Linked DNA regions of Homo sapiens. The protein of the gene in region 4 interacts with the protein of the main gene of each other region in a pairwise test. Each region holds a gene or a part of one and is shown on either strand. Other genes may lie near its edges. The genes, in order: NUTF2, USHBP1, CCDC102B and LENG1.

Evidence for each region.
Region 1: the proteins of LENG1 (region 4) and NUTF2 interact in binary tests that used the Homo sapiens proteins (3 or more experiments, as listed by UniProt).
Region 2: the proteins of LENG1 (region 4) and USHBP1 interact in binary tests that used the Homo sapiens proteins (3 or more experiments, as listed by UniProt).
Region 3: the proteins of LENG1 (region 4) and CCDC102B interact in binary tests that used the Homo sapiens proteins (3 or more experiments, as listed by UniProt).

The regions. Positions count from the first base shown.
Region 1 is NC_000016.10:67,849,914-67,856,969, reverse strand, and holds part of NUTF2 (nuclear transport factor 2), read right to left. Parts: intron 1-7,056. UniProt on the Homo sapiens protein: Mediates the import of GDP-bound RAN from the cytoplasm into the nucleus which is essential for the function of RAN in cargo receptor-mediated nucleocytoplasmic transport.
Region 2 is NC_000019.10:17,254,713-17,261,768, forward strand, and holds part of USHBP1 (harmonin-binding protein USHBP1), read right to left. Parts: intron 5,311-7,056; coding exon 5,185-5,310; intron 5,021-5,184; coding exon 4,884-5,020; intron 4,718-4,883; coding exon 4,577-4,717; intron 3,990-4,576; coding exon of another isoform or gene 3,884-3,989; exon of another isoform or gene 3,872-3,883; intron 3,761-3,871; exon of another isoform or gene 3,674-3,760; coding exon 3,500-3,673; intron 2,009-3,499; coding exon 1,759-2,008; intron 895-1,758; coding exon 673-894; intron 1-672.
Region 3 is NC_000018.10:68,794,202-68,801,081, reverse strand, and holds the start of CCDC102B (coiled-coil domain-containing protein 102B), read right to left. Parts: upstream 3,003-6,880; 5' UTR 2,901-3,002; intron 2,812-2,900; exon of another isoform or gene 2,630-2,811; intron 1-2,629. UniProt on the Homo sapiens protein: During interphase, forms fibers at the proximal ends of centrioles to maintain centrosome cohesion. During mitosis, dissociates from the centrosome following phosphorylation to allow centrosome separation. Contributes to CROCC/rootletin filament formation.
Region 4 is NC_000019.10:54,156,722-54,164,505, forward strand, and holds the start of LENG1 (leukocyte receptor cluster member 1), read right to left. Parts: upstream 3,001-7,784; 5' UTR 2,975-3,000; coding exon 2,843-2,974; intron 1,741-2,842; coding exon 1,561-1,740; intron 305-1,560; coding exon 42-304; intron 1-41. Other genes in the region: voltage-gated chloride channel TMC4, read right to left, coding at 3,585-3,653, 3,746-3,824, 4,157-4,312, 4,409-4,539, 5,381-5,564, 5,952-6,049, 6,312-6,438, 7,003-7,166 and 1 more.

The DNA.
Region 1 (7,056 bases), on a different chromosome or scaffold from region 4:
TCTCACTTGAGTCTCACAACAAGCCCTGTGAAGCTGGTATGATTATCTTCACTTTATAGACAAGGAAACAAAGACTCCAAGAGGTTAAGAAAGAATTTAAGACCACAAAAGGCCACTGGCATAGCCAGCATTAGAATGTCCACAAAACTGGCCGAGATGGGGCCGGGCACAGTGGCTCATGCCTGTAAACCCAGCACTTTGGGAGGCCAAGGCAAGTAGATCACCTAAGGTCAGGAGTTTGAGACCAGCCTGGCCAACATGATGAAACCCCATCCCTATAAAAAATACAAAAAATTGGCCATGTGTGGTGGCAGGCGCCTGTAATCCCAGCTACTCCGCATGCTGAGGCAGGATAATTGCTTGAACCCAGGAGGCAGAGGTTGCAGTGAGCCAGGATCACGCCACTGCACTCCAGCCTGGGCAACGAGAGCAAAACTCCGACTCAAAAAGGAAAACAAAAGCAAAAAAAAAAAAAAACTGGGCCAGGGATGGTGGCTCACGCCTGTAATCCCAGCACTTTGGGAGGCCGAGGCAGGTGGATCATGAAGTCAGGAATTCAAGACCAGCCTGGCCAAGATGGTGAAACCCTGTCTCTATTAAAAATATAAAAATTTGCCAGGCGTGGTGGTGGGTGCCTGTAATCCCAGCTACTCAGGAGGCTGAGGCAGAGAATTGCTTGAACCTGGGAGGTGGAGGTTGCAGTGAGCTGAGATCACACCACGGCACTCCAGCCTAGGCGACAGAGCGAGACTGTCTCAAAAAACAACAACAACAAAAAAAAACTGGCCGAGATGCAAACAGCTGAGAGCCAATGTGGAGTAGCAGAAAGCACCTAAGTGACAAAATCAGGTGTTACAAGAACATGTCCATACACCTGTCCACCTTCTTCAGGGACGTCCAGATTGGCCACATCGTAACAGTGGGTGAGTGCCGGCCCCTGAGCAAGACAGTACGCTTCAACGTGCTCAAGGTCACCAAGGCCGCTGGCACCAAGAAGCAGTTCCAGAAGTTCTGAGGCTGGACATCTGCCCACTCCCCGCAATGAAATAAAGTTATTCTCATTTCCCCCATCCCCCCCCCCCGCCAAAAAAAAATCGGGTGGCAAGGAATGCAGCCCAGGCCTTGTCTTCCCCTATGAAATCAGCAAGCTCCATGGAGCCTCAGAATGGAAGAACCTGAGCACCTACTCAGCAGGTCAAAGCAGCTTTACACCTTAGGACAACTGAGAATTTGCATTCTCCTAGTCCTGAAACCACCTGCAAGTGGAACCAGTATCTCCACACAGAGCTCTTTCCTGGGGCAGCAAGCTTTCCAGTTTCTGCCCTCGGGAGACCCACTGGCTCTGATGGAATCATTCGAGACTTTAAGAAACAAACATTCCAAAATTCCCCCAGTTTACTGAGGACACTGGGACAAACAGCCCTCAGTTCCCAGGTACCCCAGAAACCCCTCTCTAATAAGGGTTCCCTATCCCCATAGCAGCCCTGTCTCCAGCCTGGGGGCTTAAGGAGCTGGCACACAGCAGGTACAGCAACAAATGAGTAACGCCCCAGACAATGAAAAGAAGTTCTTGGCCACTGGTCAGCCAGCAGTAGGAGCCCTGTGGCCCCTAGGCAGGCCACCCTGGGCCTCGTGTCCCTCTCCCTTGGCCACTAAGACACGTTCCCAGCCAAACCCAGACCCAAGCAAAGCATTCTGCCCAGGAGGGCACACTCCAGCTGATAGGGTGAGGAAAAAGAGGGTGAATAATATCACATGACCTAAGTCACTCCAAGGATAATCCATACACTGCTGGCTCCCCGAGGGAGGGACTCAAGAATTCCTGCCATATATGATCAAAGGAAGAGAGAATCACAGAATCACAAAGCCAGGAAAGGGGTAGCCAACTCAAACTGAACTGCAAACACACAAACATCATTCTCAAATGCCCTATCAAAACATTAATTAAAAAAAAAAACAAACCAGCACCCAGCACAAGGTTCGGCTCAACCTCAGCTTAAAGAAATCCTGCCCAACTTTTTTTTTTAAAGACAGAGATCTCCCTTTGTCGCCCAGGCTGGAGTGCAGTGGCGCGATCTTGGCTCACCGCAACCTCCGCCTCCCAGGTTCAAGCAATTCTCTTGCCTCCCGTGTAGCTGGGATTACAGGTACCTGCCACCATGCCCTGCTAATTTTTTGGAATCTTGGTAGAGACGGGGTTTTGCCATATTGGCCAGGTTGGTCTCAAACTCCTGACCTCAGATGATCCACCCACCTTGGCCTCCCAAAGTGCTGGGATTACAGGTGTGAGCCTCTGTGCCCGGCCAAGAAATCATGCCCAACTTTCAATGTCTATTCTGTGGAAAACTTTTAGGATTCACTCCCCTTGCCCCAAAAGGACTATTCCTCTGTCCTGGAGGCCTCAACGAAAATGGTCTGAATTGGATTCTAAAACAAGCGCTATTGGTATTTCCAAAGTCCCTGCTGTCTCCTGTTTCCCTCTGTAAGCCCCCAGGCAAGGGCCATCTGTTGAAGGAACATCCAAGGAGCCTCCCTGACCAGGTCTGCTGAACCTCCCACCTCTGTGGAGAATTCCTGTCTGGTGCCTGGGAAGATGCCCTGATGGGTACCACCACAGGAACAACTATTGGGCACTTAAAGTGACCATAGGAGGGTCTCAGTGAAAGGAGGAGAAGCCACAAACCCATGCTCCAAGCAGGGGACTAGAAGGCCTCGCACAGGCCAGGCAAGCAGTGGCTCACGCCTGTAATCCCAGCATTTTGGGAGGCCAAGGCGGGCAGACCAAGAGTTCAAGAGATCAAGATCATCCTAACCAACATGGTGAAACCCCATCTTTACTAAAAATACAAAATTTAGCTGGGCGTGGTGGCGCGTGCCTGTAGTCCCAGCTACTTGAGAGGCTGAGGCAGGAGAATTGCTTGAACCTGGAAGGCAGAGGCTGTAGTGAGCTGAGATCATGCTACTGCACTCTAGCCTAGGTGACAGAGCGAAACTCCATCTCAAAAAGAAGGCCATGCACAACAGGCCAGGCGTGGTGGCTGTTCCCTATAATCCCAGTACTTGGGAGGTTGAGGCAGGAGGATCACCTGAGCTCAAGAGTTCTGAGACCAGCCTGGGCAACACAGTGAGATCCCGTCTCTACAAGAAGTTGTAAAACTTGGCTGGGCACAGTGGCTCACATCTGTAATCCCAGGACTTTGGGAGGCTGAGGCAGGAGGATTGCTTGAGCCCAGAGTTCAAGACCAGCCTGGGCAAGATAGTGAGACTTTTGTCTCCACAAAAACTAAAAAATAGAATATAAAAATTAGCAGGTGTGGCCAGGCACAATGGCTCATGCCTGGAATCCCAGCACTTTGGAAGGCTGAGTGGGCAGATCACAAAGTCAGGAGTTCGAGACCAGCCTGGCCAATATGATGAAACCCTGTCTCTACTAAAAATACAAAAATTAGCCAAGCATGGTGGCAGGAGCCAGTAGTCCCAACTACTTGGGAGGCTAAGGCAGGAGAATCTCTTGAACCCAGAAGGTGGAGGATGCTGTGAGCCGAGATCGTGCCACTGCACTCCAGCCTGGGAGACAGAGTGAGACTCCGTCTCAGAAATAATAATAATAATTAGCCAAGCGTGATGGTGCGCACCTGTAGTCCCAGCTACTCAGGAGGCTGAGGTGGGAGGACTGCTTGAGCCCAGGAGGTCAAGGCTGCAGTGACCTGAGATGGCACCAACTGCACTTTAGCAGTGCCACAATCACAGCTCACTGCAGACTTGAACTTCTGGGCTGAAGTGATCCTCTTGCCTCACCTCCCAAGTAGCTGGGACTACAGGCACCCACCACCATACCTGGCTGGTTTCTATTTATTTAATTTATTTTAAAGACAGGGTCTCACTGTTGGTAAAAGAGTGAGACCTTATCTCATTAAAATAAAATAAAATAAAATAAAAAGGCTGCTGATGTACCCTAAGAAAAACTTTAAAAAGAAAGAAAAAAAGGGCCGGGAGCGGTGGCTCATGCCTGTAATCCCAGCACTTTGGGAGGCCAAGGTGGGTGGATCACCTGAGTGAGGTCGGGAGTTCGAGACCAGCCTGACCAACATGGAGAAACCCCATCTCTACTAAAAATACAAAATTAGCCAGGCGTGGTGGCACATGCCTGTAATCCCAGCTACTAGGGAGGCTGAGGCAAGAGAATCGCTAGAACCCAGGAGGCAGAGGTTGCAGTGAGCCGAGATCACGCCATTGCACTCCAGCCTGGGCAATAAGAGCGAAACTCTGTCTCAAAAAATAAAAAAATAAAGAAATAAAATAAAGAAAAAAAGGCCAGGCATGGTGGCTCAAGCTTATAATCCCAGCACTTTGGGAAGCTGAGGTGGGCGGATCGCCTGAGGTCAGGAGTTTGAGACCAGCCTGGCCAACATGGCAAAACCCCATCTCTACTAGAAATATTAAAATTAGCCGGATTATACCGGCAGGCGGGTATAATCCCAGCCACTCGGAAGGTTGACACAGGAGAATTGCTTGAACCCGGAGGGCGGGGGTTGCAGTGAGCCGAGACTGCGACACTGCACTTGAGCCTGGGCAAGAGTGACACTTCACTCCAGCCTGGGTGAAAAAAAAAAAAAAAGAAAAAAAGATAATAGTGTTTTGTTAAGGGAAACCTAGCCTTTTTTTTGGAGACAGGGTCTTGCTAGAGTGTCCCCAGGCTACAGTGCAGTGGCATGATCATAGCTCACGGTTCCTTGACCTCCTGCAGCCTCTTGAGCAGCTGGAACTACAGGTATACAACACCACAACCACACTGGCTATTTTTTTATTTTTCTTTTGTAGAAATGGGTATTGCTATGTTGACAAGGCTAGTTTTGAACTCCTGGCCTCAAGCAATGCTCCAGCTTCAGAGCTGGTGCTGAATCCTAGAATTTTTGATATAAGGTGGCTTCTAGTTATGAATTTTTTTTTTTCAAGATGGAGTTTCGCTGTTGTTGCCCAGGCTGGAGCGCAATGGCACAGTCTCAGCTCACTGCAAGCTCCGCCTCCCAGGTTCAAGCGAGTCTCCTGCCTCAGCCTCCTGAGTAGCTGGGATTACAGGCATGCACCACCACGCTCAGCTAATTTTCATATTTTTAGTAGAGACAGGGTTTTTCCATGTTGGTAAGGCTGGTTTTGAACTCCTGACCTCAAGTAATCCACCCACCTCAGCCTCCCAAAGTGCTGGGATTACAGGCGTGAGCCACTGCGCCCAGACTTGTTCTGAAATTTGAAAATTCTGTGTCTCCAGGGTGGAAACATCACACACCGGGGCCTGTCCTGGGGCGGGGGTAGCGGGGAGGGATAGCATTAGGAGATACACCTAATGTAAATGACGAGTTAATGGGTGCAGCACATCAACATGGCGTTATGTATACATATGTAACAAAACTGCAAGTTGTACACATGTACCCTAGAACTTAAAGTATAATAATAATAAAAAAAACAAAATTCTGGTCTCCCTTGTTTTTTGAGACAGGGTCTCACTCTGTCACCAGGCTGCAGTGCAGTGGCACAATCTTGGCTCACTGCAACGTCCGCCTCCCTGGTTCAAGCGATTCTCCTGCCTCAGCCTCCCAAGTAGCTGGGATTACAGGCACCTGCCACCATGCTCAGCTAATTTTTGTATTTTTAATAGAAACAGAGTTTCACTATATTGGCCAAGCTGGTCTCCAACTCCTAACCTCGTGATCCGCCCACCTCGCCCTCCCAAAGTGCTGGGATTACAGGCATGAGCCACCGCACCCTGCCTATTCTGTGTCTCTCTTAAGTAATTATTCCCCTCCCAAACCACCAACTCCAAAGGCAACGGAATAAAACAAGACATGGCTCAGAGAGAAGAGATGGGCTCGGCCAGGTGCGGTGGCTCACACCTGTAATCCTAGCACTTTGGGCAGCCAAGGCGAGTGGGTCACTTGAGGTCAGGAGTTCAAGACTAGCCTGGCCAATATGGTGAAACCCCATCTCTACTAAGAATACAAAAATTAGCTGGGTGTGGTGGTGGGCACCTGTAATCTCAGCTACTCGGGTGGCTGAGGCAGGAGAATTGCTTGAACCCAGGAGGCGGAGGTTGCAGTGAGCTGAGATTGCACCACTGCACTCCAGCCTGGGCAACAGAGCGAGGCTCTGTCTCAAAAAAAAATAGTGATAGGCAGATAGGCTCCTATACACGAAGGGACATAATTTTGAGCTAATTGAGAACTGAGGCATCTTGTATCCTGCCTCATCCTTGTGCGGCAATATCCCAACCACCGCATGCCAGGTCCCACTTCCAAGTCAGCCCTACATGAATAGAGGATGCAGATAGATCCTGGAGAACCTCAGGCCACTTCTCTTATATCTGAGACCTAGATGGCCCGCCAAGTTCCAGAAACATTTAACGAATTCTCAGGATCAGGATGCCTAGCAATGGCTAGCTGACCTCAGACAAAGAGGTTACAGGGAACGGCCAGGCGCGGTGGCTCACGCCTGTAATCCCAGCACTTTGGGAGGCCAAGGCGGGTGGATCACGAGGTCAGGAGATCGAGACCATCCTGGCTGACATGGTGAAACCCTGTCTCTACTAAAAACACACAAAAAATTAGCCGGGCGTGGTGGCGGGTGCCTATAGTCCCAGCTACTCGGGAGGCTGAGGCAGGAGAATGGCGTGAACCCGGGAGGCGGAGCTTGCAGTGAGCCGAGATCGCGCCACTGCACTCCAGCCTGTGAGACAGAGTACGACTCCATCTCAAAAAAAAAAAAAAGAAGTTACAGGGAACTTCTAGAGGTTGGAATGAGAGGGAGGGACCTGAATTCCTCCTACTCTTGAGTAACGTTGGAGAAGGAAAAGTATCTTTTTGTCCCTGAAGAAAACCCTTGTGATCACTGGGCAATTGTTCACATCTGTAATCCCAGCACTTTGGGAGGCTGAGGTGGGAGTATCGCTTGAACTCAGGAGTTTGAGACCAGCCTGGGCAACATATGGAGATGACATCACTGCAAAAAATAAAAATAAGGCCGGACGTGGTGGCTCACGCCTGGAATCCCGGCACTTTGGGA
Region 2 (7,056 bases), about 37 Mb from region 4:
CATAATCGTGGCTCGCTGAAGCCTCCAACTCCGGGTTCAAGTGATCCTCCCACCTCAGCCACCCGAGTAGCTGGGACCACTGTGATAAGGGAAATAAATAACAGGAAACCGCATCTGAAGTCACTCCAGGAGGGCTTCCTTGAGGAGGTGATGTCTAAGCTGAGATCTACAGGAGGTCGAGGACTTTATGACACAAAGAGGGAAGTGACCGGTGTTCCTGGCAGGGACACAGAATATACAAAGGCTTGGAGGTAGGAGAGATGATTTAAAGAGCTGCATTAAGGACAGGTGCGGCGACTCATGCCTGTAATCTCAGCACTTTGGGAGGTGGAGGCAGGCGAAACATTTGAGGCCAGGAGTTCGAGAGCAGCCTGGCTAACATGGTGAACTGCAACTCTACAAAACTGCATCTCTACAAAACATACAAAAAATAGCTAGATGTGGTGGTGCGTGTCTGTAATCCCAGCTACTCAGGAGGCTGAGACAGGAGAATCTCTTGAACCTGGGAGGCGGAGGTTGTGGTGAGCCGAGATTGCAACATTGCATTCCAGCCTGGGCAACAAGAGCCAAACTCCGTCTCAAAAAAAACAAAAAAAAAAAGGCTGTGATTGACAAGGGCTATGTTCTCATTAGTAAGCTACTCCCCTACCAGGTTCAGGCAGGGCAGCTCACCTGATACCACTCTTCCTCGTCCCCGCTGCTGCCACCTCCGCTGCTATGTCCGCCACTGCTGTTTGCCCCACCAGCCTGGAGCTCTGCCCGTTCCCACCGCAGCTGCTCCAGCAGGAGCACGTGAGCTGGACCCAGGGCTCGGAGGGCAGCCTCCCGCAGCTCTAGGCCCCGCTTCTCACGCCGCACCAGCTGCAGCCGAAGCATCAGGTCCGCCAGGGCCTCCTGTGGGACCAAGGAGAGGGGAGAGAATTTATGCTTCTACGGTCAACTGCAGGGAAACTGAGGCCCCAAGAGGCACCCACTGAGGACTATTCAGACAAAAACTGTGACTTTTGGCCAGGCGCAGTGGCTCATGCCTGTAATCCCAGCACTTTGGGAGGCCAAAGTGGGTGGATTACCTGAGGTCAGGAGTTCGAGACGAGCCTGGCCAACATGGTGAAAACCCGTCTCCATTAAAAATACAAAAATTAGCCAGGTGTGGTGGTGCACACCCGTAATCCCAGCTACTTGGGAGGCTGAGGCAGGAGAATCACTTGAACCCGGCAGTGGGGCAGAGGCTGCAGTGAGCCAAGATAGCGCCACAGCACTCCAGCCTGGGTGAGAGCAAGACTCCGTCTCAAAAAACAAACAAACAAACAAACAAACTAGGACCTTCACCATTCACCATGTTCTTGTGAGGTGGAAATATCTTCCTCCCATAAAAGCTACAGCTGTAGAAATGGCATTTCCTAGAGGGGCAAGTAGCTTACATAGGTCAAGTATTAGTTCTGTCAAAGCTTCTGGAGTTTCTCTAACTCCAGAACCTCAAGTTTTTCATGCCAAGCTACAAACCCAAGATTGTGTTCTTTGCTCCCATCTCTTCCCATAGGAAGGGCATTTTGGAGAGCCAGATTTGTAGTCTAATGAGAAACTGAACCCCAGAAAACAAACTCCTATTAATCCCTCAAAACCCCAGCTCCAATTCTCCCTTCACAATGCCTGCACTCAGCCCAGCAGAATTCTCCTTTGCTCCTTGGTCCCCCGACCTCAGTAAAGGATTTTGTCCCACCAAGAAAGACTGACACAGTGGCCACAGCCCATTTGTACCCTTGCGGCCACCAGGTCCTGCTGAATTTGTGTCTTCTCCAGTCGGGGAAGAGCTGGGCCAGCCTGGGTCCCCAGAATGGCCTGCACCATGGCTTCTGCACGGGGCACAGTGGGCATGGGTGCCAAGGTGGGGCCAGGCTCTGAGAGAATCTTCATTAGAGAACGGCGCTCCTGGAGACGCTGGACATAGCTTCGGAGCTGGAAAGCCACTTCCTGTGGGGTGGGCTTATCCACACTGCTGCCTTCAGGGCTATAGAAAACAGAAAAGGTGCCTATGTCAACACTGGCAGGCATAGGTGGGTTAAGTTCATGCCAATCCTGGTAGGGTCCATCACCTTCCATCTCACTGGCCACGATGGAATCTATGCCATCTTTGGTGGTCCCTGTCACACCAACATACCCCACTAGGCACCACCTTCCATCAAGACCACATGGTGGCCAGGTGCGGTGATGCATGCCTGTAACCCCAGCACTTTGGGAGGCTGAGGTGGGAGGATTGCTTGAAGCCAGAAGTTTGAGACCAGCATAGGCAACAGAGTGAGAATCCGTCTTTTTTTTTTTTTTTTTTGAGACGCAGTCTTGCTCTGTCGCCCAGGCTGGAGTGCAGTGGCATAACCTCGGCTCACTGCAAGCTCCACCTCTCGGGTTCACGCCATTCTCCTGTCTCAGCCTCCCAAGAAGGTAGGACTACAGGCGCTTGCCACCACGCCCGGCTAATTTTTTTTTTTTTTTTTGGATTTTTAGTAGAGACGAGGTTTCACCGTGTTAGCCAGGATGGTCTCGATCTCCTGACCTTGTGATCTGCCCACCTCGGCCTCCCAAAGTGCTGGGATTACAGGCGTGAGCCACCGCGCCTGGCCGAGAATCCGTCTTCATAAAAAATTAGCTGCGGCCGGGCGCAGTGCCTAACGCCTGTAATCCCAGCACTTTGGGAGGCCGAGGCAAGTGGATCACCTGAGGTCAGGAGTTCGAGACCAGCCTGACCAATATGGAGAAACCCCGTCTCTACTAAAAATTCAAAATTAGCCGGGTGTGGTAGTGGGAGCCTGTAATCCCAGCTACTCGGGAGGCTGAGGCAGGAGAATCCCTTGAACCCGGGAGGCAGAGGTTGCAGTGAGCCGAGATCGGACCATTGGACTCTAGCCTGGGCGACAAAAGTGAAACTCTGTCTCAAAAAAAAAAAAAAAAAAAAAAAAGACAGGGTCTCACTCTGTCACCCAGGCTGGAGTGCAGTGGTGCAATCTCAGCTCACTGCAGCCTCCACCTCCCAGACTCAAGGCATCCTCCCACCTCAGCCTCCCAAGTAGCTGGTACTACGCGGGCACACCACCATGCCCAGCTAATTTGTTTGTAGTTTTGGTAGAGAAGGACTTTCGCCATGTTACAAGGGCTGGTCTTGAACTACTGAGCTCAAACGATCTGCCTGCCTCGGCCTCCCAAAGTGCTGGGATTACAGGCTTGAGCCACTGTGCCCGGCTGTGGGTGCCAGTTTTAACCAGTAGGCATTGTCATTCATCTTCATGCCAACTGCAATGTCTGTCAACCACCATGCCAACTTTGTCAAGTAGCAACAGGCCAACTGCAGTTGAGCCTCATGTCAACCAACTACAGTGAGCTCCATACCGACCTTGCTGGACACAGCCACACCAAGCCCCGAAACGTGGTGAGCTCTGGGAGCCCCATCCCCCAGTCAAGACCCCACTCCTCAACCAGGCCAGTTCCCAGGGTTCCAGGGGGGTACCTTGGCTGTGGATTCTGCTGTGCTCCTGCATCCATGGCAGCCTCCTCTTGTGCCAGCAGCCTCCATGCTTCCTTTTCAGCTGCTTGCAGGTCACTCATGGGGGCTTCGTCTCCTGCTCCTGAGTCGGCCTCCCGCAGAGCAAGCAGAACCCTGTATGCCTCTTCACAGTGTTCACTGTGGGACACTGGTTCTGAGTGCTTCAGGACACTCAGCTCGGCTGGGTGCAATGGCCCTCACCTGTAGTCCCAGCACTTTGGGAGGCTGAGGCGGGAGGATTACCTGAGGTCAGGAGTTCGAGACCAGCCTGACCAACATGGTGAAACCCCGTCTCTACTAAAAAGACAAAGATTAGCAAGGTGTGGTGGTACGCACCTGTAGTTCCAGCTACTCAGGAGGCTGAGGCAGGAGAATCACTTGAACTGGGGAGGCGGAGGTTGCAGTGAGCCAAGATGGCACCACTGCACTCCAGCCTGGGTGACAGAGCAAGACTCTGTCTCAAAAAAAAAAAAAAAAAGAAAGAAAAAAGAAAAAAAAATCCACTTAGCTACATCTTGCTCTATAGGTGCCAGTCCCCACTTGCTCCTGAACCCCTCTTCTCCCCACTGCCCTCAGCTCTGGAAGCATGCAGACTCCCTTAGCAACCCTGAACTAAAATTGCCTTAAGTTAATTTCTGGGCCAGGCAAGGTGGCTCACACCTGTAATCCCAGCACTTTAGGAGGCCCAGTAGGGGGGATCATGAGGTCAGGAGTTCGAGACTAGCCTGGCCAACATGGTGAAACCCATCTCTACTAAAAATACAAAAATTAGCTGGCTATGGTGGCATACACCTGTAATCCCAGCTACTCAGGAGGCTGAGACATGAGTATCATTTGAACCCAGGAGGCAGAGGTTGCAGTGAGCTGAGATCTCACCACTGCACTCCAGCCTGGGCAACACAGCGAGATTCTGTCTCAAAAAAAAAAATTAATTTCTGAAGTGGGGAAGGTGCTCTCCAGTGAGGGTTCTGTGGATTGGGGCCATCCTCAGAAAGCCCACTCCCTCCCCAGCTGGTGACATCACTGGCAGGGTGCACTGACCTGTACTGCAAGGCCAGATGCAATGCTGTGGCCTCAGCCTCCCGCTGGCCTAGCTGCATGCTGAGGCCTTCACAGCGGCCCTTGTATCCCTGTAGCACAGCTGATAGCAGACGATTAAAGCATTTGAGCTTCTCAATGCTCCTGTTCCCGAAGGTGGGGAAGAGGGAAAGTCAGAGGCCTTCTAAGGCAGTCAGGCCTCAATTTCCACCCTTTCCCTCCCTCCTGTTGCAGCTTCAGACTCCTGGCTTTATAACTCAGTTGGAGGAGGTGCCTGTGCCCTTATGAGCTCAGCATTTGAGTCTCTTACCCCCGGAGTTGCTCCATCTGGGCTTCCATGATGTGCATCTCAGGACTGAGGGGCTGGTTGGGAAGAGACCCAAGGATCTGGGTGCTGGAATGGCTGCGGAGGCGCCGAAGCAGGGGGTGAGCCAGGGAGAAGGAGTCCTGCCAAGAAGAAGTGATATAACTGACCCCAATTGTCACCAAGAGCCTGGGATTGTAGGCATTTTGCAACCCCAAAGCTGTTGGATCCCATGACAAAGATTTGAGTCTCATTCCCCTGAAGGCTAAGGACATCAAGACCATGGGATTGAACTTCTCGCACTCACCTGAGTCTCCCAGGGTTCCCTGTCTGCCTCAGAGCTGCTAGAACCACTGCCTGAGCCACCTGCTTGGTTGTGGGAAAGATGTGGGCAGGGCTCCAGCCTCAAGAGGGAATCCTGCAGCTCTTGAACCTGGGAAAGATGAGGGGGACGTCAGGCCTAGGGGCTCAAACCAACCACCAGCCCTCTCTCCCCAAGGCCTGTTCTTGGGGAAGTGGCAAGAACCCTAGCTGGAAGGCAAGAGGCTTGGATACTTAGCCTGCCAAAAATCTCACTATCTGACCTTGGGAATGTTTCTCAGCTGCTGAGGATTTTATTTTTCCCAGCAGAAAAATGGGCCCCACTCTGGGGAAAAATGAATCCCTGGACTGGGCTCCAAAGTTTTTCTACCAGCCTAAGATGAGGGCTTCCCTCTCAATATCTCATTCAGCCACATGGCTTTTTTATTTTTATTTTTGAGATGGAGTCTTGCTCTGTTACCTAGGCTGGAGTGCAGTGGCACAGTCTCAGCTCACTGCAACCTCTGCCTCCCGGATTCAAGTGATTCTCCTGCTTCAGCCTCCCGAGTAGCTGGGATTACAGGCATCTGCCACCATGCCTGACAAATATTTGTATTTTCAGTAGAGATGGGGTTTCACCATGTTGACCAGGCTGGTCTTGAACTCCTGACCTCAAGTGATCTTCCTGACTCAGCCTCCCAAAGTGCTGGGATTACAGGCATGAGACAATGCACCCAGCAGCCACATGGCTTTAAATGCCACCTGTGTGCTAAGGATGCTCAAGTTTCTCCCTTCTGCCCTGCTGTCTCCTCTGAGCCCTGGACTCAGACATATAGCTGCTCCCTTGAGGACCCCACGTGGATGTCTCATGGACACTTGAGCTTATCAAGGGCTAAAGAGATCTGGTCACCCCCAGCCAAACCTGCCTACCCTGTAGCTCCTCCATCTCTCCCTTCTAGTCCAGCAGGTCCCAAAGCCTGAAGTTGTCCTTGACTTCTCTCTAGCCTTCACGCTCACACGTCAGTTCCATCTGCCACATCACCCAGAATCCGTCCGCATCTCTCCACTTCTACAACCTCCACCATCGTGCATGTCTGGACCAATGAAGTCGCCTCCTGGCTCTCCAGGAGTCCACCCTCACCTCCGCCACCAGAGGGCGCCTGTGAACACCTGCGTCGAGCATGCCCCTCCTCTGCTCAAAACCCTCCAGGGCTCTCACCTTAATCCAAGCAAAGCCCAAGCGTCTCCTTGCAGCCCACGAGGCCCTACGCGATCTGCATTTGTTCTCCCTCTGTTCTGTTCTGGCTCCCCACACTCTCCCTGTTGCCCCCTGTGTTCCAGCCACACTGGCCTCCTTCGGGTTTCTTGAACAGGCCAGTCATGCTGCCACTCCAGGGCCTACTCCCACCACCCTCAGTTTTCTTTCTTTTTCTTTCTTTCTTTCTTTCTTTTTTTTTTTTTTTTGAGAAAGAGTTTTCTTCTGTCGCCCAGGCTGGAGTGCAATGGCGGGATCTCGGCTCACTGCAAGCTCCGCCTCCCGGGTTCACGCCATTCTCCTGCCTCAGCCTCCGGAGTAGCTGGGACTACAGGCACCCGCCACCACGCCGGCTAATTTTTTGTATTTTTAGTAGAGACGGGTTTTCACCGTGTTAGCCAGGATGGTCTCGATCTCCTGACCTCGTGATCTGTGCCTCGGCCTCCCAAAGTGCTGGGATTACAGGCGTGAGCCACCGTGCCCAGCATTATTATTATTTTTTTTTTTTTTTGAGACAGAGTCTCACTCCGTCACCCAGGCTGGAGTGCAGTGGTGAAATCTCGGCTCACTGCAACCTCCACCTCCTGGGATCAGGCGATTCTCGTGCCTTAGCCTCCCTGGTAG
Region 3 (6,880 bases), on a different chromosome or scaffold from region 4:
TCTAAACTAGTAGGCAGTATGTTCATAAAATGATAGCATAGTTACCATCATGTATACATTGAACAAAAAAACCTCGTTGTTATGAAATAAGCTATAATTTTTATTTCATTGAAAAAAAAGAAGAAGAAAATGAATGTTATCCCAGATACTAGTTCTACTTTGAGAAGAAGTAATGTCTTTAAGGTTTGGATATATGAAGGAAAACATGTTAATAAATAAGTTCTATTCTTTTTTACTGTGAATGTACTGTATTTCACACTATCTATTACAATGTGAATTTTATTTATGCTTTTCACCTATTGAAATGAAACTTATACAATGCCTTTATTTGATAATAACTTGGTCATTCCATAGTTTTAAGAGTATTTGGTCGCTGAGTGTTCGTTGATACCATGTATCAAAAAGAAACAGAGGAAAGTCAGTACATCCCCAGTGTTATTCCTGGCCACCTCACACATCTCATTTGTGAATAGGTAATATTCAGTGCAAATCAGTGATGACATTTTCTTTGAGAATGCAAAAGATACCTTCTCTAAGTAGATTTAAGAAAATGTAAGAGAGAGAAAAGCATAAGTGTTGAATCTGAGGGCCGCTAATTTAAATGTAAAAATTACCCCTTATTTGCAGCGTCAGTCTCTTCTCTCAATTCCCAAAGGAAAAGTGTGGCCCAACTGATAGAACAGTAATTCGTCTGGATTTATAGAATATCGGAATGGATCTTTGGGCTGTTGTCTCACGACCTCCTCCCTGCACCCTAAAATCCCAGTGTCCACTTCAAACCATTCTGCTCGACTTCTGCCAGATTCACATTCCTAGAATACCAGCACAACATCGTGGAAATAGCTCTGGAGCCAGAAAGACATTATTTGAAATTCTGGTTCCCTCACTTTCTTTATCTGTGGCTTTAAGCAAATCATTGAACGTTTCTGAACAGCAGGTTCCTTCAAGTGCAAAATGAAAATAATGTGTAAAATAATGTTCATTTTCTTGCAAAGCTATCAAAATTGTGGATATGTATGTAAATCACCTTGCAAGCAGAAAATGCTATTATGTGTTGGCAAAATGATGATGATGATGATTATGGTAAAGATGATGAAAAGAGGCACAGATACTCCACCTCTTTTCAGAAACTTGCAATTGTCCCCTTTGTATGATATGTAAAGGCCACATTTTTCTGTGTGCAATGTTAAGATGCTCTATCAATTTTTCCTGTTCTATGTATTGAGTACAACGTCTGATACTCACAAAGGTATATTTTTTCTGCTCCAATCAGATAAATTACTCACCATTCTTTTATGCTCTATGCTAATTTGTGTTCAAAACCCTTTTTGCCAATTACTTCTTCAAAGTAGAGTATTCCTCTTGCTTTCAGCACCTATCCAAGTTCCACTAGTTTTTCAAGACTAAGTTCAAGAAGTTGAACTTTTCTTTAAAGCCTCTGGCATCTCTTTAGGACTCACATACCTGCTAAAAAGGGAATTTCTGAATATTTTGGCATTATGGCAGAATTCAATTGGTCTTGTAATATCAGCATAAGAGATATGACGACCTGAGAGCATTTCTTGTATTTTAAGAATTACAGCCATTGTTTTGTAACTGTAATAATTAGATGAAACATTCATAAATTACCTTGAAGCCAAACCCATAGTGAGGCCCAGAAACAATGTCCCAGTGATCAAGCAATTATTGAATCCAATGATAACATATGAAGGATGCAAAAGAGAGACAATGAAATTATCTATGATTTCATAAGAACATAGGATATTTTGGAAAATAAAGCAATTCACATAAAGCATTTTTCTGAATATATTCAAATAGGTCACACAAACCTACACAGATATTGTATCGCTAACTTATAAATCTTCTTTCTAATTTATTGCTTTCATTAAAATATGAAATAGAATTCAAGAATATTTACTGGATATATAAAAATATTTATTGGCAATAACATATTTTACTAACAAGAGAATATTTACTCAAAAGTTGTAATAACACCATTTCCCATGAAAATTATTAGCAAAAACACATTCACATTATTTTAGAAAACAGAAAAACTGGTATTGATGTAAATAAGAATATCAATAAATATTTTATATATTTTGGTCCTATGTTACTGACATATTTCTAATTATATTTTTTGACGAATCTTTCTTATATTTATATTTAATAAATGTACTCACTTGACATTCAATTGATAATTTATCTTTGCAGAAAACGTAAGCAAATGCTTCCCAAAGGTTTCCAGAGATTTTTTTTCAGTTTTATAATTTACTTCTATATAGCTAAGCATTACTTTTTATTATGCACAGGATTTTATTATTTTATTCTGTATCCCTGTCTCCTCCACACTATACAGGTAGCATGTAAAGAAATCAATATTCATGCTAAGTTTGAAATATACTTTCCATTAACGAATACAAGAATTTAGCATGAAGACTCAACAATTGAAAAGAATTCAAGGTACATGAGGCATAGATAGGAGGATTTCCATAACAATTTTACTTTTTTACTGTAAGAATATAGATTACTTCAAACACAATGACTAATTCACATTCATTTGGAACAATGAAACAAAATTTTAATATCAACATATACTATTACTGTCTAAATGTAGAGTCGAAATTCTTACCTGAGTTTTGCTTAGTATACAGTTATTTTTTAAAGACAGGAAATGTATGACAAATTGTCAGGATAATAACACCCACAGTGGAAAAATGAAAGGGGAAAGGAAGGAATCACTTTAAAAAGAAACTCCAAATCCTTCTGCTTCCCAGCTCTACAGTAGTTTTGCTCTGCATCTTGTAAGCAACTGTCTTTGCTCTGAGAACAACACATGCTGTACCTCAGCAGGAAAATATAAAAATTAAATAGAAAACCACAAGGTTATTAAACACTCTTACCCTCTGGGCTTGCTGGGCTGCTCCAGTGTCTCAGTTGCAGCCACATGTGTAAACAACAGAATTTCCTGCATCCTTTTCTCATCCGTACAGTTCTGGAGTCCTAGCCAACAGGATTATTTCCAGCATTAAGGGCACTCCACACAAACTCAAAAAAGATTCCCATTGGTTGTGAAGTTTTATTGAAACCACTACCACAACCCCCTCTTTGGATCACCATTGAGCCAACCAAAATAAAACCATTTTTAATGTTCCCTAAGTATGGTTATCCAAAGCTTTCCATACAACCATTTGAAACCTGTACTGTGGATGAAAAAGAAAAAGACACCCACGCCTTGATCCACAAGTGTTCTTAATGTTTAATTACAACAGTATAACTTGTAATAATAATAGAAAAACTAAAATAGCAAAGCAAAAAAAAAAAAAAGCCCAGGAAGTACCTATCTGAAAAATATTTAAAAGGAAATTATACTGCACATTACAGGAACAATATAAAATATTCATCCAATCTGATTTGCATTAGATTGCACAAAAGCAAAAGAAATCATATTTAATAAAAGATTTGAGTATACAAATCATGAAACAATAACTGCATGTCAAAACCCTTGATTGTGGTCACATTGGCAGGAATTGTGAGCTGTAGTCCCCGGGGTGCCCAGTGAAAGCTCTCTGGCCCCTTTCCCTGGGGAAAAAGAATATGAAGTAGCTTTCCATTGACATGACTCAGCTGTCAGGAAGTGTTCTGATGGGGGTTGAGGGGGGAGGCGAGAGATCACATAAAAAAGAGCTTCTCTGGTTGAAACTAGCAGCAAAAAAATGTCCAAAGTAAAAAAGAAAAGTCAAAAGGTAACAGGATAGCCTTGCTCCTTTTAAGTAGCAAAAAAACAACATTTGAAATTTAGGCAATAAATGTCTTCAAATTATTTTATTTTTCACCCTTCCCTAATTTGTAGGCTTATTACGGTGTTATCATCTATCTCTACTTAACATTCTTTTCCCACTTACTTTCTGATGCAATGGAAAAGGTGGCCATCTTCCTGTATAAAGCCAATTGACCCATCGAGCTAAACTTAATCATGATTCTCTCTCCTCTATCTTTGAACGTTCCCTCCTGTCCGGATTTTCCCCACGTGATGTTAAATACCATACATTCTCTAGTCAATTTCATGTATGCCAATGAACTTTACTTTTAATTCAGTCATTTTCACTTTCAGGTACCATTCTTTCTGTCATGGCCAAATGATTGAAAGTTCTCCAGCCAAGAATTTTATTTAGTCTTGCATCCACCTGATTTTAATTCATCAAAGTGACAATACACACACACACACACACACACACACATGCATGTACATAAATATTCTATTTATTTTTAATTTTTCTAACTCACCTCAATCCTTCTAGTTGACATCTACACAGCCTTTCATACTGTTCACAACCCTGCCCACATGAAGACATCTCTTGTCTTGGCATAACACTCTCCTGGTTTTCCTCTTGACCTCTTTTGCTGGCCCTTCTCACCCTCTTTGATGATGCCTCATCCTCCATCCATCCTTTGGTGTGCATCACATATGTTCTTAGATAAATCTACATATAAATGGTATATTCTCTCTCTGGATAAAGCCACCCATCCTCATAGTTTAAATTACCATCTTTCTTTTTAGATGACTCCCAAATATCTACTTTTAGACCCAATGACTGTCTGAATTTTCAATACTCATATTTGTCAGCCCACTATACCCCTCAACTAGAAAATTACACAGATATGGCATCAGCTTATCTAAACTGAAATCATCATCTCTCCATGGACCTGCTGTGTTATCTATGTAAATGTCAACCCAGTTTTACAGTTTCCCAAAGAAAAATTCTGGAAGTCATCCTTGACTCCTTCTATTCTATATCAAATCCAGCACTAGTTCCTTTTGATTATACTTCAATAATTTGCCCAGTCTTCTTTTCTCACTGCCACTACTCTGGTTCAGACAACCATCATGATCTTTCTAGATCACTGCAGTGTCTCTCTGTCTCTTAAATTGTCTTTCTTCTCCCAGCTTTCTTCTGCTCCATCTTTAAAAAGATACAGTAGTCTATTTCCGGTACTTATGCACTTGAAGTCCATGAAGGTTTTTTAATCTTTTTGTCAACTCCCTTCTTCATAATACATTGGCTTTTCTTGGCTTCTAAACCACAACTTTTCTAGATTATGTTTTCATCTTTCTGACCATGTCATACTTTTATCCCCTCTCTTATTACTTTTCTTTCCTTTCAATGGTGGAACACCTTCAAGAGGCCATCATTGGTCCTATTCTTATTTCACATTTCTGTCTAGGTAAGCACATCTGTTTTTGAGGCTTCTTTTGCCACACATATTTGGTGAGTTGAATTGTGTCCTCTAAGAAGATATATTGAAATCCTAACTTCCTGTACCTATGAAGATGATTATTTGGAAATACGGTCTTTGAAGATGTAATCAGGTTACACTGAGGCCATACTGGGTGAGGGGGAACCATATTCCAAGGACTTGTATCCTCATAAGAAGAGGGAAATTTAGACAAAACGCACAGGGGAGAATGTTGTGAGAGAGACAGAGACAGCAATTGGAGTGATAGGTCTACAAACCAAGGATTGCCAACCATCACCAAAATTAGGAAGAGTCAAAAAAGGGTTCTTCCCTAGGGCTTTCAAAAGAGTATTGCTGACTGACATCTTGATTTTGGACTTCTGTCCTTCAGAACTATGAGATCAATTGTTTTAAGCCACAAACTTGTGATATTTGTTACAGCAGCCCTAGTGAACTAATAGACATATAATTCTGAAATATATATGGCCTTTCCTTAATAGTTTCTAAAGCTTCAGATCTGTATTTCCAAAGTCTAATGAAATATTCACTAGGAGCCATTTAAATCTTTCAATAATCTCCAATCATCAAAGCTCTTATATTTCTTCCGAAGACTCTACTGTATCTTGTAATCTCAATCTAGCCCCATCCAGTCTCTCAATCTAGAAATCTCTTTGCTATTCCTAAGTTCTTACTCTTCTTCACCATTCAAATTTAATAACCCGTCTTTACATTAAAACCTGAAACCTCTCTCTTCACTTTATCTCCTTCTGTATCTTTGCATTTGTTTTTGTCTTACCACAACATTTTTTTTTTTTTTTTTTACTGGCGAGTTTACAAATTAATGACCAGTAAAATCTGACTATATATGGAGGGCACTGTCTTACTTGCAGCTTTCTCATGTGAAGGCTCTTTTTGCCCCACACAGGCCACAACCATTAGGGTCAGAAAATGGAGAAGGTGTCCTACTTCATCCTTATTGCCAAGTCTGCCTCACAAATTATTTGTTCATTGATAGCATGGGACCTCTCAGAATAAAAAACAAAGTTATCTATGGTCTCCATCCTAGTTTCAAAGGGTACATCGACACCATGGTTATAATACCCCTGTGCACACACACCTCCATTATCCTAACACTCCATATCATATAACAATCACTTGGGGGCATATGATAAAGAGACGAGAAAAATTCAGCCGTGAGGTTTCCAAAATTTGTTGGCAAGTTTATAATGTCTTGAGGTACTCAGCACACATCAATGAAGGCTATTTTTTTTTAGTGGATTCCAGTTTCATTCTACATATTACATCCACCCTGTGGGTTCTGATATTTACCTACCCAGTATCCTTTCTCCCTTTCCTCCCTACAAAACAATTTTTTATTTTTGTTTGGAGCAACAATGTGGTCATTTTTTTTGAAGCCTATGTTACCAAGCCTCCCATACAAATATATTTGGCTGTGTGGTGCAGTTTTGCCAATGAAACATAAGTGGAAATCTAATGGGTTTAGAAAACTTTTGTATTTCTAATGCCAGTCTGTTGACTTCTTTCTCTTTTTTCATTCCTTGAACAAGACAAGGAGGCTGGAGATGGGGAAGCTATTCTTAAATGATAATAAGCTGGTGAAGTCATGATTCAGATGCAAGCCACA
Region 4 (7,784 bases):
GAAGGTCTGGGCCCTGGTCTGCCGAGGTGGGGTCTTCTTACTCCTTGGGTCGCTGCTTCTCAGACCCCTCCTTTTCCTTTCTGCTGCGACTGCCTTCATCACCGCCGTGCTGTCTCTTCTTCCCCAGATGCTTCTGCATCTCCCGCAGAGGGTCCAGACGGCTCTTGATCTTCTCATCTGGGGCTGGGCCGGGCGGGGGGCCCCCTCGCCCTGGGGGTAGCTGGTACCAAGGGGGTTGAGTCTGTGCCTCCGCTGCACTCTGGCCCAGGTATGTCAGGATGCCCAGAGCTTTCTCTTGCCTCTCCTGAGGGGGCCAGGAAATACAAGAGATGTGATATAATCTTTCAAGGTGTCAGGTGTGTCTCCCTGACACAGGTATCTAAGCGAACAGGTATCTAAGGCTTGTTATGAACCAGTTGGACCAGGTGCTGGGGATGGAAGACAAACAGAGGCAAAGCTCCCCCTGGGGGGACAGTAGCAGGTACAGTAACAGCAGGGGAAGGAGGGGACAAGTGGAGCCACTTGAGTGTTCAGAGGCAGGCATCTTTGCAGAGAGACTTGAAGAGAAGCCTGAAGGGATCAAGCAAAGCAGAGGAGCGATGGGTGGGGTCAGCAAGTCCAGAGACAGCAGATAAATGACAAGAGCTGATGTACCTCTTTTTTTTGAGATGGAGTCTCGCTCTGTTGCCCAGACTCGAGTGCAGTGGCACGATCTCGGCTCACTGCAACCTCTGCTTCCCAGGTTCAAGCAATCCTCCTACCTCAGCCCCCCGAGTAGCTGGGATTACAGGCACACACCACCATGCCCAGCTAATTTTTGTATTTTTAGTAGAGACGGGGTTTTGCCATGTTTGGCCAGGCTGGTCTTGAACTTCTGACCTCAGGTGATCCACCCACGTTGGCCTCCCAAAGTGCTGGGATTACAGGCGTGAGCCACCATGCACAGCCACTGATGTACCTTTTACACTTGATCTTAGCCAAAAAGCAAGAGGCGATTGATTCACTTTTTGTTTGATTGTTTTGAGATGGGGTCTCGCTCTGTCACCCAGGCTGGAGTGCAGTGGCGCAATCTCGGCTTACTGCAGCTTCCACCTCCTGGGTCAAGCGATTCTCCTGCTTCAGCCTCCCTGGGATTACAGGCGCGCACCACCATGCCCGGCTAATTTTTTTTGTATTTTTAGAGATACCATGTTGACCAGGCTGGTCTTGAACTCCTGACCTCAGGTGATCCACCCGCCTCAGCCTCCCAAGGTGGTGGGATTACAGGCGTGAGCCACAGCCGGCTGATTTAAATTTTTAAAAGCCCATCAGGTTTGAGACTCCTCCAGTTTGGAGAACTGAGCGGTTTGCCCAGCAGCTGGGGACCTCTAGCATCTACCTCCAACCCCTGTGGGCGCCCAGACGGCAATAGCCAACGCTTTTTGAGTGTCATGCCTTGGTATGGTCCTAAATTCTGTGTGTTCACTCTTGTTTGACCTTGGTCACAACCAATGGCTAAAGTGCCCCCTCCCTCCAACTCGATTCATGGCCCCTCTGATGAAGTGGGTGAGGCCAGCTTACTTTCTCCTGTCGCTTTTCTTCCTTGTACTCTTTATTGCCTCTGATCACTCCTTTCCCTTCCTCCAGCAGCTCCCGAAACAGGTCCACAGGGCCAGAACCTGGGGCTCCCGCCTCTGCTGCTTCAAGCTCAGGCAGTGAGTTCTGATGTCTGGCTTTCTTCCGTAGGAATTCTGTACGGGCCTGGGGAGAAAGTTATAGGCAGGACATTCAGAACCTAGAGGTAATTCAAGAACTGTGAGTCTGGTGCCCACCACAGAAAATGGCAGTCCAGGGTGCTGGGGTTATGAGAAAGGGAGCACTAGGCGCCTAAAAGAGGCACCTGTCCTAGCTGGGGGTGAGGGTAGGCAGATGAGGCAACGCCTGGGTTTTGTAAACTCCCTTTCAAATAGTAAACCACGGGTCATCAAGGATGTATGGGAGGAGGTCCCTGGCCTAAACCAAAGGGGTTCCTAACCTCAAGTGAGACAATTAAAACAGCCATAAAGGTATGCATTAGGCCAGACGATCTGAATTCTAGCCATGGCTCCAAGTGACTACCCCAAGTCTGCTGAAGCCCTGTCCCCTGCCTTCAGGACGCGGATTTCAAACAGCGCTCAGCAGCCTACTGAGATTCTAAAAACCTAGACTACCTCCCACCCACGGCGGAGGATCAGACTAGCTAAGGAAATGAAAGTTGGGTGTACACCAAACAGATTTAAAGAGCCATACGGAAAGCCCGTGTTTGTGTGTATGTGTCTAGGGGGCGGTGCACGAAAGGGCTCGCCCGATGGCGTGGAGCCTGGCTGTCCGCCTCTCCTTAAAATGTGCCTTCCCCTCACTGAAGCCATCTCACTTCGTGCAACAGAGATGACAGTGCCCCTCTAAGAACGAACAGTGCTTATTGGGGATTCCGCAAGTCAGGTGCACGGCATGTAGTTAGCATACAGTAGATGCTCAATAAATAGGCTGTGCAGGCAAACTAAAAAGTGATCCGAATTTCCTTGAACTGTCCAAGGGTTCACGGATTCATTAAATGTTAAGCTTCTCTTTTGTGCTAGACACTGTTCCAGCCATGTGAAATACATCAGTGGGGGAAAAACTAAGACGAGGGCGAGATCAAGGAAGGTTTCGTGGAAGTGGGCACAAGGTTTGCGGGGCAACGTCCTCGAAAGTGGGATCGGCGCCTGGTCCCGAATTTCACACGGGGCACATTGAGCCTGCGCAACGCCTCCGCTTCCGGCCCCCAACCGCGGCGCCTGCGCGCTGGGCCCCGGAGCGCCGCCCTGCCGGCTTCCGAGCTTACCTCTTGCTGAGCCAGCAGCACCCTCCGCTCACGCTCCTTCTCCTCCTCCCGGGCCTGGGCCTCGTCACGCCGCACGCGGGCGACATTGTCCTTGTTCCGGACGTGCCAGCTCTTCTTGGGCAAGATATTCATGGCGTCGTAGCTGTCCAGGGACTGGCACGCCCGCCTCTTTGCACTTCCGATTGGCGAGAGGATGCCCCCCTTTTTCTTGTCCCTACTTCGACCGCGGATTGGTTCCGAATTAGTTGGTACGGCCCCCTGGCCTGTAGCGACAGGTGATTGGCTGAGACGCCCTTTATCACAGCGAATGCTAGGCGTTCGGCTCGTGGTATCCCCTAGCAACCGCCTCTTGTCACAGATCTGAACCAATCATAAGTTGGCCCGCCCCTGATGCTACCAGATGCGGCCGTCGATTGGCCGACATGACCGACAAGTCTCCTTGCGGAAGAGCGCTCTGCACCGACAAACATGCCCGTACATTTGATTGGCTCCTGCCCCGCTGTAGCCCTGCCCCCACCTTCAGGACGCAGATTTCAAAGCGCGCTCAGCAACCTCGGCTGTATTTATTGATACAAGGAAGATCACCCGAGAGTCAGGGACGTGGCGGCGAGGGGCCCTGGAAATCTCCAGATACCAAAGCTGGAAGGGCGTGGAGTCTTCTCCAGTTCTCCTAGTTTACAGATGTTGTGACCTAGGCTTACAATGGGCCTGGGGTCTGAAAGCGGGACGTGGGCTGCGGGGGTCAAAGAGCCGGTTTGGTGGAGGTCAGCGCCACAGCGCGCCGTGCCAGGAAGACTTTATTCTGCGCCTCCTGGGGCAAAGAGAGGTGGAGGTGAGACAATCCTCTTCCCCAACCCCTTTCCATGTTCCCCAGGGGCCCTCTCAGGGACCCGCCTGGCTCACCGTCTCTCTCTGACGTTTGAGCTCAGAGATGAGGCGTCCGTAGGAGTTAGCCAGAGCCACAGTGTACGCCATCAGGATGCTGAAGGAGACAGGAACGGAAGCCACTCCTGACACGCTCTTCCATTATATCCAAACGTCTGGCTCCTTCGAAGCCAGGGATGTGGACGCCTAAGCCCCTCCTCGTCTGGGCTCAAGGAGTTCAGTCTCCCAGCCCCTCCGCCTTCAGATCCAGGAGTCCTACGTCCCGCCCACCTCCTCCTTCGGACCCAGCAGTCCAGGAGCCTAGGCCTCCTCCCTCAGACTCAGTACGTTGCCTGCTCCCACGCCCAAGCCTCTCCTCTCTTGGACGCAGGTGGTGGCCCCCAGATCACACGCATTCAAACCCAGACCCAGAAGTCTGGGCCGTCTCACCTGGAGATCAGCAGAAGGGGCACAGCAAAAGCCTGGGTCCCCAGGAAGAAGAGGAAATTCTGGGTGGTCTCAGGGAGGCTGGAAATAGACTCAGGGATCTGGGCCCAGATGGACGACTGCCCCCGGAATGGACCACACAGCTTAGAAGGCGGGATCCTGAAGTCAAGACAGGCTGGGCTCACATAGTGCCAGGAGTCTGAACACTGAATGGGGAGAGAGGGAGGGAGAGAGGCGGGAGCCTCTCGCACTTACAGGAAGATGCTGTAAAGCAGGGGAACGCTGGAGATGGCCAGACCCAGGAGAAGGACCAAGGGGAAAAAGAAATTCGCCGCGGAGGCCCGGAAGGTGCGGGCAGCCGGGGAGCAGGTGGAGAAGAGGGTAAGCTGGTGGGGGAAGGCACGGAGAAAAGGGCTCTGAAACACAAGAGTCTGTGCCTCCATTTTTTTTTTTTTTTTTTTTTGAGACAGAGTCTCGCTCTGTCGCCCAGGCTTTTTTTTTTGAGACAGAGTCTCGCTCTGTCGCCCAGGCTGGAGTGCAGTGGCTCTCACTGCAGCCTCCCCTCCCGGGTTCAAGCTATTCTCGTGTCTCAGCCTCCCGAGTAGCTGGGATTACAGGTGTGCACCACCACTCCCGGCTAATTTGTTTTGCTGTTGTTGTTGTTTGTTTGTTTTCTCTTTTTGAGACGGAGTCTCGCTCTGTCGCCCAGGCTGGAGTGCAGTGGCACGATCTTGGCTCACTTCGACCTTCACCTCCCTGGTTCAAGCAATTCCCCTGCCTCAGCCTCCTGAGTAGCTGGGATTACAGGCGCCTGCCACTAAGCCCGGCTAATTTTTTTTGTATTTTTAGTAGAGACGGGGTTTTGCCATGTTAGCCAGGCTGGTCTCAAACTCCTGACCTCAGGTGATCCACCCGCCTTAGTCTCCCGAAGTGCTGGGATTACAGGCGTGAGCCACTGCACCCGGCCTACCTGCCTCTCCTTTTTTCCGAACCAGGAGTCTGAGCCCCTTCCTCATCTAGGACCCCGGAGTCTGAGTCCCCAGATCCTCAGACATATAAGTCAGAATGCCCTAGACCCCTCCTCTCAGATGCAGTAGTCTGTCCTCCAACCCCCTCCTCTCTCAGGACCGAGTAATCCAGGCCCCCAGGATCTTCCTTGCCCTTGACCCAGGAGTGCGGGCCCCAATACCTCCTGCCTCAGACCCAAGGGTCCCCCCTACCCCTTACCTTCTTCAGGTAGAAAAGCAGCAGGAACTTGACCGTGTTAAGCAGGGGCAGTAAAGGGCAGAAAAAACTCCCCACCCAGACCACCGTCTGCGCGTAGATGAGCCCCAGCACCTCGTCGGGCACCTGGAACTCTTGGGTCCCCGCCAGACGACCCAGCGCCCCAGGACAGAGGCCACAGAGGAGCCTGAAGGACGGGGCGGGGCCGGGCCGGAGTCAGGGGAGTGGCGGCCTGGAGTTTCCACGCCTCCACCGCCCCGCCCGCCAATAGGAAGCATGCGTATTGGTGGTGGGGGGGGGGGGGGCGGGACTTTCAGGACTCCACGTGGAGGGGGTGTGTCCAGAGGGCGGGTCCTGAGGACTAGAAGGGACCCAGATGTCGCCGCCGTCGGGGCCAGAGGGAAGTAACCCACTAAAACAAGGGCGGGGAGCGGGGAGATCTGCGGACCTAGGGCAAGCAAAGGGAGCAGGCAGAGGCGGGAATGGTAAAAAGGTGCGCGGTGAAAAGAACAGCGCGATGGGGCACGGCCTCGTCCTAGAGGGGCGGGGCCACAGCAAGGGGCGGGGCTCTCACTTTCTAGGAAACTGGATGAGCAGCGCGACTGCCAAGACAGTCAGCAGATCAAAGAGCAGAAGTTTGTACATTTCCTGGCCCAGGACAGTCTCCCAGCACTGAAGAAGGAAGAAATATATCAGAAAGAACTCGGGACCCGGGCACCTGGAGGCCCACGCGTCCGAGTCTCCACATCGCAAGCCTATGAGACCCTGTCAATACTTTCTCTGGGGGTCCTCGTTTTTCAAACTTTCATACCCTTGGGAGAGTGTTCCAGCACCCCAAGCTCCCCTCTCCGCCCAAACCAAGAGTCTGGACCCACCCAGCTCCATCTTTCCTTCAGGGACCCAAGAGTCCCACGCACACCCATGCCGTTCTCACCGGAAGTTGTTTGTAATTGTAGCCACAGGTTTTGCAGTCCTCAGCCTCGGAGTCGCCCCCACAAGTGATCTGATTCCAGAGAGAGAAGAGCAGGACCACCAGGGAGGCGAGGCGAAGAAACACGGTCCTGAAGGGGGGAAGGCAGAGAATGGGCCCTGACCCGGTACCCACCATGTGGCAGTTCCCTTCTCAGTGGAACGCGCCCGCATTCAACCCATCTCACAGATGAAGCTGAGGCCCAGTGACAGAATCAGGATTTCTTTCTTTCTTTCTTTCTTTTTTTTTTTTTTTTTTTTGAGACAGGGTCTCACTCTGTCACCCGGACTGGAGTGCAGTGGCGCGATCTCAGCTCACTGCAACCTCCACCTCCCAGGCTCGAGCCATTCTCCTGCCTCAGCCTCCCGAGTAGCTGGGACTACAGAAGCCACTACCGCCGGGCTAATATTCGTATTTTTACTACAGACGGGGTTTCATCATGTTTGTCAGGCTGGTCTCGAACTCCTGACCTCAGCCTCGGCCTCCCAAAGTGCTGGGATTACAGGTGTGAGCCACTGCACCTGGCCAACAGAGTCAGGATTTGAATCCCTGGATTCGGTATCAGCAGGATTTCCGTGTCTTACCTGTCAGCGCCAACATCCCTCTGACCGCCCCCACCCTTCATCATTCCCAGCCATCCCCGTGAGGCTGGAACCTGAGCAGGATAAAAACGATCTGGCGACTCCGAGTGTAGCCCTCCAGTGGAGCAATGAGCTTGAACACGGGCGGCAGCACAAAATTGACCCCAGCGATGAAGATGGACGGAAGGTAATTCACCCCAAGCTTCAGCAGTGGCAACTCCTGGACAAGGGGCATCTCCTGGGAGCGGGATGGACCATGAGTAGAGGCTTGGGGTCCTGGAGGAGCCAAGCTTAAGGTCCTCCCCCCGGCCTCTTCTTCTTCTTCTTCTTTTTTTTTTTTTTTGAGACAGAGTCTCGCTCTGTTACCCAGCCTAGAATGCAGCGGTGCGATCTCGGCTCGCTGCAACCTCTGCCTCCCGGGTTCAAGTGATTCTCCTGCCTCAGCCTCCTGAGTAGCTGGGATTACAGGCGCCCACCACCACGCCCGTCTAATTTTTGTATTTTTAGTAGAGACTGTTTTTCACCATGTTGGTCAGGCTGGTCTGGAACTCCTGACATCGTGATCCGCCCGCCTCAGCCTCCCAAAGTGCTGGGATTACAGGTGTAAGCCACCGCGCCCAGCCTCTCTTTTTCCTTTAAAATCCCTAAGTCCAGGGTCCGAACATACCCTCTCCCATACTTCCTCTCTAAGATCTCTGGCATCCCAAACTTCCGTCCCCTCCCTCCACCGTTGGAAATGTAGGTTCCAGGACCCCCTGGCTTCCTCTTCCAAGACCGTCCGCACCTGCAGCTCCACGGTGCACCCCGTAGCCCAGTAGACGCCATAGAAGGCTGCCCCCAGGAGCGCGACCACCAG